Regions from separate parts of the Homo sapiens genome. Here regions 1 and 3 are each linked to region 2. The links come from fine-mapping of genetic effects on gene expression. A gene starts in region 2. Each other region holds a variant in brackets. All regions are shown on one strand. Distances are from middle to middle.

The links. PIP is the estimated chance that this variant, and not a neighbour inherited with it, causes the effect.
Region 1: its variant is the best candidate, but not a certain one, in a credible set for the expression of SPON2 in lung (TOPMed, PIP 0.88).
Region 3: its variant is the best candidate, but not a certain one, in a credible set for the expression of SPON2 in whole blood (TOPMed, PIP 0.81).

Annotation. Positions count from the first base shown.
Region 1 is chr4:1,238,401-1,241,148 of GRCh38, forward strand. The region is part of intron 2 of CTBP1 (C-terminal binding protein 1); the gene reads right to left. Among named protein-coding and RNA genes, the nearest start is that of CTBP1, 9.4 kb to the right of the region's middle. RefSeq lists an enhancer at 1,576-2,076. The variant C/G (reference allele first, on the strand shown) is at 1,025.
Region 2 is chr4:1,170,922-1,173,669 of GRCh38, forward strand. SPON2 (spondin 2) reads right to left here and starts at 1,662. Exons shown (of 6, transcript NM_012445.4): 1 at 1,623-1,662; 2 at 931-1,153; 3 at 342-565; 4 at 78-269. The coding sequence starts at 1,150. The region is part of intron 1 of LOC124900647 (nascent polypeptide-associated complex subunit alpha, muscle-specific form-like); the gene reads left to right. RefSeq lists enhancers at 842-1,557, 1,558-2,275.
Region 3 is chr4:957,575-960,322 of GRCh38, forward strand. TMEM175 (transmembrane protein 175) reads left to right here. Exons shown (of 11, transcript NM_032326.4): 11 at 250-1,082. The coding sequence ends at 922. DGKQ (diacylglycerol kinase theta) reads right to left here. Exons shown (of 23, transcript NM_001347.4): 23 at 1,313-2,748. Among named protein-coding and RNA genes, the nearest start is that of DGKQ, 15 kb to the right of the region's middle. The variant C/T (reference allele first, on the strand shown) is at 1,498.

The sequences.
Region 1 (2,748 bases), 67 kb after region 2:
ACGCCACCCACTGTGCACGGGCCAACGAGGGCCGACCGCCGGGGGTTTTCTGGTCTATATGTTGTGATATTTGTAAAAAGTAAATTAAAAATCCACGTGAAAGACAACTCGTGTGTGCCTCAGCTCGCTGACTCAAGTGGACACAGACTGTGGACACCCACTACCATCTCCCTTGGGCACAGGACCTCCGAGACCCTCCAAGTCCCCTCCGAGACCCTCCAAGGCCCCTCCGAGATCCTCCCAGACCCTCTGAGACCCTCTCACACCCTCCAAGACCCTCCGAGACCCCCCAAGAAATCTCCAGACCCTCTGAGAACCTCCCAGACCCTCTGAGACTCCCCAAGACATTTCCAGACCCACCGAGACACCTCCCGACCCTCCTAGGCCCTCCAAGACCCTCTGAGACCCCCCGAGACCCTCCCAGACCGTCCGAGACCCCAGGGCAGCTCCATGAGGCAGGGGGACAGGAGGGACCCAGGACACTGGAGGACACAAGATGACAGCACGGGACTTTGGGAACATGGTTGTCCCTTTCCTGCCTGGGCTACCGCGTGGCTGCCCGGAATCCCTGATGGGGTCACCAGTGTTTCACGTAGGACGCCCCCAACCCTCTGCCTGGCATTACTTCCAATTATAGATGTGAAGAGAAAAGAAACAGAACAAAGGAAGAAAAGGGTTAAAACCTGTTAAAGTCCACTCTGTGCCCCTGACCTTCCCAGAACCAGATGATTAAAGCTCATTAACACCCATTCCTTTCGCGTATGACGCAACTAAGCCTCATCGGGGCCAACTGGAGAAATAAGGGCTCTGAGGCGTCACAGAAGCATGGCAGCTTCCAGGCACCGCCCGACCGCCCCGTGCCAGGCAGGGAGCACCAGGTGGGGCCACTGTCAGCCCCACGGCAGCTGGGCAGAGGCGGAGCTGGGGCCAGGGCCCAGCCGGTCCCTCCCCTCCTCCTCCAAAGACCGGCCACAGGAGACCAAGCAGTACCCAGGACCGTTCGGCCAGCAGGAGGGGAGGCGCA[C/G]GACAGAACCAAGGAGCAGAGTGACCCAGCAGGCTCTCCAGTGGCCGCGGCCACAAGCACGCTCGGCCCAGTCTCCCGCCCCATCCGCTGCCCCATCCGCCTGCAGGTGAGCAGAGGCCACCGAGCTGCCAGTATCCAGGAAGCAGGGAAGTGCCTCCTGGAACCCATGGCAGAGAAAAGAAATGCTCTGGTGGACAGCCCAGGGGTGCAGTGGGCCTGCAGCACACGCCTGCAGGGGACGGGGCATGGGTCTCCACTGACCACCCCAAAGCCGAGGGCTCCCAGTACGGCTGGGCCCATGCCCCTCCCGTGAGGTCCTCGCGCCCTGGCGTCCTCGGAGGAGCCACTGGCCATTCCACCCACTTTCCTTCAAGATAGGAAACCAGATCCCAAACGTGAGGTCTGCACGGTCAAAACCGCGTCCTGGTTCGCCTGTTCCTTCATTCCCTCTGGACGGGAGCTGCCCACGAGCACCATAGACAGGCCGCCCAGTGACACTGTACATGGCCTCCCTCTGCACGTGGCCTCCCTCCCCGCTGTGTGTGGTGGTGATGACTTCTCATGAGCAGAAAGGTTTATGTTGCTGTTTCTGAGTGAGTGGATAGACATCCGCTCTCAGTATCCTTGGATTTCACTTCTGATGAGGAAGGCATGGACACACGGGATCACTGCAGACCGCTCGGCTGCGTCAGAACCGCCTGGGGGGACTCCTGGGTGCTGGGTGAGTGGGAACCGGGTCCCTCGTCAGAACCGCGTGGGGGACTCCCGGGTGCTGGGTGAGTGGGAACCGGGTCCCTCGTCGGAACCGTGTGGGGCACTCCCGGGTGCTGGGTGAGTGGGACCGGGTCCCTCGTCGGAACCGCCTGGGGGGACTCCCGGGTGCTGGGTGAGTGGGAACCGGGTCCCTCGTCGGAACCGCGTGGGGGACTCCCGGGTGCTGGGTGAGTGGGAACCGGGTCCCTCGTCGGAACCGCGTGGGGGACTCCCGGGTGCTGGGTGAGTGGGAACCGGGTCCCTCGTCGGAACCGCGTGGGGGACTCCCGGGTGCTGGGTGAGTGGGAACCGGGTCCCTCGTCGGAACCGCGTGGGGGACTCCCGGGTGCTGGGTGAGTGGGAACCGGGTCCCTCGTCGGAACCGCGTGGGGGACTCCCGGGTGCTGGGTGAGTGGGAACCGGGTCCCTCGTCGGAACCGCGTGGGGGACTCCCGGGTGCTGGGTGAGTGGGAACCGGGTCCCTCAGCTGAACGGTGGGGAGGGGGGAGCAGGTGGAGACACCAAGCCCCATCAGGCTCAGGCACCCAAGGTGCCTCCTCACATCACCCATGAGCTGCCCCTGACCACCGTGCCAGGGTTCCCCGGACAGCCCACCCTTGCAGGCTTGGGGACACACCCAGGAGGCTTCACAGTCACACGGCCTGTGCTGAAGCAGGCTTTGCAGCATCCCCCAAGCCCAAGGCTGTTTCCGACTGCACGCACTTCCGGGCCAGAGAGCGCAGACCAACCACAAGGAACAGCTCCACAGGGGCCACGGCCCTGCTCCTGGGCCAGCCGGGTGGACACCTGAGATTTCCAGGGTTCCGTGTGGGGCTCCACCCTCGTGCTGGCGGCCTCCACATGGAGGCCCTCCGTGCCTCTCAGACACTTTCCGACAGAAACAGACAGCAGATGCCACGGACAGGCCTGACCACAGCTGTGCTCTGCCACCAGGTGTGCAGGAAGCCCTC
Region 2 (2,748 bases):
AGGGTGCAGCCAGGCCCCAGCCCCGTCCCCACCGCGGGGGCCATAGCGGCCCTTGCGCACGCGGGGTGCCCACTCACCTCGGTCACCGTGTCCTGCGGGATGGTGGCGAAGTTGGGGGAGGAGAAGGTGAAGCCGCTGTCCGTCCCGGCGTCGTAGGGGTACAGGTCCAGCGCCGCCTGTTCCCGCCAACGGTCCCCGTCGCACAGGTCCAGGCTGTCCACGCCCACGAACCAGTCGGGGCTGGGCACGATGCGCACCACAAACGAGACCTGCGGCGACAGCGGCTCAGCGCGCCTGGCCCCGGCCCCCCGGACCCCGCCCCCGGCCGGCCCCGCGCTCACCAGCGAGTGCCTGCGCTGCACCTCCAGCTCCGCCGACGTCTGCCCGGTGCCGCTGGGGACGGCGGGCGCCGAAAACACCGCGTGCACGCTCTGCAGCGCCTCCCCCGCCGCCTCGATCTCCTTCATCAGCGCCCAGGCCTCGCCGCGCTCCGCAAAGTCGCGCAGCCCGTTACTGACGTACTGGTTCTTCCTCCACATGCTGTAGTCGGAGCTATGCGCGGCCCCTGCAGGACCACCCGGCCGCGCCGCGGACCATGGTCAGACACTGCGGTCGGGCTTGGATTCCAGGGGGCGCCCCAGGAAATCCCTCCCCGCCGCCCGCAGGGAACCATGGCCCCCAGTCACGTCGGACCGTGACACCCTGTGGCTGCCCCTGCCGCGACCCACCTGCGCCCTCCCCGTGAGCGCCCCCTGCCCCCACCGCATCCCCGGAACCGCACACCGCAGGCGCTCGGCAAACATTCTGGTGTTAGAGTCTCCCGACGTCAGCACGCCCCAGACTGGGAAGCGCCGCCGTGCAGCTGTGCGGGGGGCTCCGGCGCCGCAGCCCTCCTGGTGGAGCAGGAGGCGAGGAGGGGGCTGTACTTACCCAGCAGCGAAGACCACTGCGCAGGGGGGCGGAACAGGGGGTACTGCTTGGGGAAGGCCGTCTGGCTCCACTTGCCCGTGAAGGTGATGCTGTATTTGGCCAGGGCTCTGGCGGAACAGATGGACTCTCCCCCAAGAGGCTGGCCGGCGGCGCCGAGAGTGGCCAGGAGGAGAGCGCAGAGGGCCTTGCCCAGGGCGGCGGCCGGGCTGGGGTTTTCCATCACCTGGGAGCACAGAGGGGAGCAGCCGCGCGCTGGCACCGTCGTGGCAGCCTCGGGGTGGAAAGCCGAGAGGGCTGCGGCACTTTGGGCTCTGAGGACGGCCCCGAGCACCCGCGACCCCCTCCCTGCTCCGCAAAGCTCTCCTGCGGTGCTTCCGAGACCCCCATCAGCGGAATGGACGGCGCGGGGTTAGATCGCCCGTGCGCCTGCGAGCGACCAGGGGTAACGGGCAGGTTTTCAGTCCGAGTCCCTGCAGCTTGCCGGGCCGGTCTGGGTGCGGCCTCCGGGATGCCTTCGCCGTCGCAGGGACCCGGGGCCTTGGCCGACTGGCTGCCCCCGGGACTAGACCCTTAAAGCTCGGTCGCAGCCAGTCCTGGGGGTCCCTCTGGAGGTGCCACAAGGTTCTGGGCCGCGGGGAAAGTGCAGGAGGCCCGGGCCCTCTCTGGGTGTCCCGGGGGCACGCAGTACTCACCCGGCAGGAGCAGCGGGAGCGCGGCCGGCAGCGGTCGGGTCCCAGCCAGAGCCCGGAGCTCCTATTTAAGCCCGAGGCCGGCGCCCCGGGCCGGCCAATGAGGCTCCAGTTCCTCCTGTCTTCGATGCTGCACGGCCTGGCCTCCAGCGAGAGGCAGATAGGACGTGGGAGAAAGGAGGAGAAGGGGCTGCGGGGGCGGCGGGGGCTGCCGCTTTCCCAACTCGCCCTGCCCAGCGACCTTCCCCGGGTCGGATCACCCTCTTCCCCTGGCAGTGCTGCCGCACCCCTTTCTTTGTCTGTCTGTCCTATCCCTCCCCTCCCCTCCCTGTCCCCTCCCTTCCCCTCCCCTCCCCTCCTCCCCTCCCCTCCTCCCCTCCCCTCCTCCCCTCCCCCCTGTCCTCCTCCCTCTCCCCGTTTCTCTCCCGTTCCAACAAGCGCCTTCCTGGTGCCTCCCTAGGTGCCACTGAGGGGAGTTCTTTGCCCCAAGCCTTTCGGGAAAGCTCAGGGCGTGGGGGCAGAGGGGCTCTTGTTTTCACCTTCTCGAAATTAGAGCCAGCGTGCTACACCTTCTTGCGCAGGGTGTGACCTGGAGAGCCCTGTGCGTGGCCTGACTTCAGTCTACATGCTGGAAGTGGCTGGGGAAGCTCCTGGCTCCCGGCGCAGGCATCCCTGGCCTTTGGGGCCCTGGCTTTAAGTCTCTTTCCTGGCATGGCCTAAAGCTGCACAGAACAGCCTAGCGGTCTGCACTGTGGCCAGAGGGCATTTGCAAGCCATCCCTCCTGGAGGGAGGTCAGAGTGGGCTGAGGGTCTGGGGTGGAACGCGCAGGGAGTCAGGAAGAGCCACAGAAAGGGGGCCCCCCTCCCCAGGACCCCGCACAGGGCTGGGGCTGCAGGCCGGCGGTGTGTGCGGTGCAGAGCCCTCCCAGGGGCTCTAGGCTTCCCTGCCTTTGGGATGAAGCTAACAGATGCTGAAGTTGATCCTGCTCCATGTCAGGAAAATATTTATAGGTCCCCAGTCATGGGATCTGGAAACAGAGCGGAGGAAGGAGCTCGGGAATGGTCTTGCTCAATCCTTCCCGGCCTCTGCTCATCGGAATCACCCAGAGGGCTTTTAAGCTTAGACAAA
Region 3 (2,748 bases), 210 kb before region 2:
GTTGGGCTCCCATTAGCACAGAGCAGAAGGGTGCCAGTTTCTATGGAATTTCAGATGAACAGCACGTAACAGTCAGTGTGCCAAATACACATAAATACGGCGTTCTGAAATTTAGCACACTGGGAAGTCCACATGGTTCATCTGAAAACGTGCCAGATCCAGGCAGCCCTGACAGGCGCTCAGCCACCCTGCTGGGGCCTGTGTGGCCACGGCAAGGCCGGCACAAATGCATCTATTCACTGTTCTCAGCGAAGACAACGTCCCGGACCCCAAGGATGTGAAGGAGAGGTTCAGCGGCAGCCTCGTGGCCGCCCTGAGTGCGACCGGGCCGCGCTTCCTGGCGTACTTCGGCTCCTTCGCCACAGTGGGACTGCTGTGGTTCGCCCACCACTCACTCTTCCTGCATGTGCGCAAGGCCACGCGGGCCATGGGGCTGCTGAACACGCTCTCGCTGGCCTTCGTGGGTGGCCTCCCACTAGCCTACCAGCAGACCTCGGCCTTCGCCCGGCAGCCCCGCGATGAGCTGGAGCGCGTGCGTGTCAGCTGCACCATCATCTTCCTGGCCAGCATCTTCCAGCTGGCCATGTGGACCACGGCGCTGCTGCACCAGGCGGAGACGCTGCAGCCCTCGGTGTGGTTTGGCGGCCGGGAGCATGTGCTCATGTTCGCCAAGCTGGCGCTGTACCCCTGTGCCAGCCTGCTGGCCTTCGCCTCCACCTGCCTGCTGAGCAGGTTCAGTGTGGGCATCTTCCACCTCATGCAGATCGCCGTGCCCTGCGCCTTCCTGTTGCTGCGCCTGCTCGTGGGCCTGGCCCTGGCCACCCTGCGGGTCCTGCGGGGCCTCGCCCGGCCCGAACACCCCCCGCCAGCCCCCACGGGCCAGGACGACCCACAGTCCCAGCTCCTCCCTGCCCCCTGCTAGCAGCCACAGAGCCCACTCCCAGCCGTCCTCACCAGAGATGGACCAGGGAGGACAGGATGCTGGGCAGGGGAAGCCAAGTCACGGGCAGGCCGCAGTGGTTCTTGCGTGGCCTGGTTTTATTTTCATTGTGAAATATCATGCTCTTATTTCAGTCCTCAAATTGTTCTCCACTTTTTGCGGAGAGAGGAGTTTCACAGGAACTGGAAATGTGCTTTATGGCATTTGCCTATCCACTCTCTCCAACCTGAAGACACGTTGCCAAGCTCACCTACCCGAGGGGCAGCCCACTCCCAGCCCCTTTGAGGCCTATACAGAGCTGGTGGGGTCGGGGGTGCCAAGCCAGGCCCTCCCCTCCCCTCGGTTGTTGACACAAAGATGAGGAAGAGATGGTAGGATAGTGACGCCCAGACTGTATTTGTCCTGGATATAAATTACTGTTGCATTCAGGCAGCGATAAATACAGAGGGGCCCGGTGTGCAGGGCACAGACCCCACCTGGGTACAGACTCACATACAGGACAAGCCCCTCACCACAGTTACACACGATTCATACAGACCACAGTCCACACCAGGGCT[C/T]GCGAAGCAAAACTAATCACAAAGGACTGGTCTTGAAGATGACAATGACGTAAACAAGAGTGCACGCTGGAGGCCACAAGCGGCCTTACAATGCGTGTGTCTGTGCAGTTTGGCAGATGCGGGGGGTCGGGGGATTAGTGGCATCAAGGGCCCCCCAGGAGGCTGCAGCAGGCTGGGCCAGGCCACACTCCTGAGGCCAAACCAGAGCCACTTCTGAGGTCAAAGCCACACCCAGGAAAGCTCCGCAGGATTGGAGGCCCAGGCCAGCTGTGCCCCACAAGGGAAGGGGGAGATCCGCACCGTGGGACCGTTTCTCGTGGGGGAGTCGGGGCTTCCCCACAGAGCGGGCTCCATTTTTGGTCAGACTCCTCCCGGGGCCAGTGCACCATCTGAATCCTTGGGCACGTGGAGGCAGCTTTGTCTTTGGCTGGGTGCACCCCAGCCTGGCCCAGATGCAGGACCCTCCACCAAGCTGTCTGGGGGCGTGGGAGCAGGAGGGCTGCAGGAGCTGGGTCTCCACACGCTGACGAGGGATAGGACTGAGCAGATGTCGGCTCACACAGGCACTGGGAACTGCACATCAACAGCGGGCAAGCAGCGTGGAAAGTGCTAGCGTGGGGTCTGGGGCTGAAAGCCAGCTCCTCCTCCACGTGCATGGGCTGTTTACACCTCCCAAACTCCTCTGCACCGCCATGCCCTGCTTTTGGTCCCTTCTGGGTGCTAAGTGCCCCACCCTGAGGGCCGAGGGGCAGACACTCGGGCCCGGCCCACACTCTGGTGCTGCCAGGGCAGCACCTGAGACCTCCTAGCCTCCACGTGGACAGAGGTTCTCCTCCCCAAGCAGAGGCACTAGGAAAGGGCCACCAGGTCCAGCTGGGCACTGCCTGCCCCTGGAGCTGTACCTGAGATCCAAGCTGCCATCTGTATATAACAAGGCCAGAAAACAAGGGAAGGCACCTTCTCCCTTCCCTGAACACAAGGAAGTCACCAGTCACCACCACCCGGCAGCCTCACACGCTGCCCACACCTGCTGCCCAGGGCGGGGAGGTGAGGCTGGAGGGACTGGCAGCCTGTGTCTGCTGGGGCAGGGACACACCAGGGAGCCTGCTGCTCTTAAGGACTGGCCAGGGGGACGGCCCGAGGGGCACAAAGTGAGATCAGACCCACCTGGACGGCCTGCATCCAGCACTGTCCAGCTCAAGGGGCTCAGTGGGGAGAGGGATGGGTGCCCACCCCTGAGGAGAGGACCAG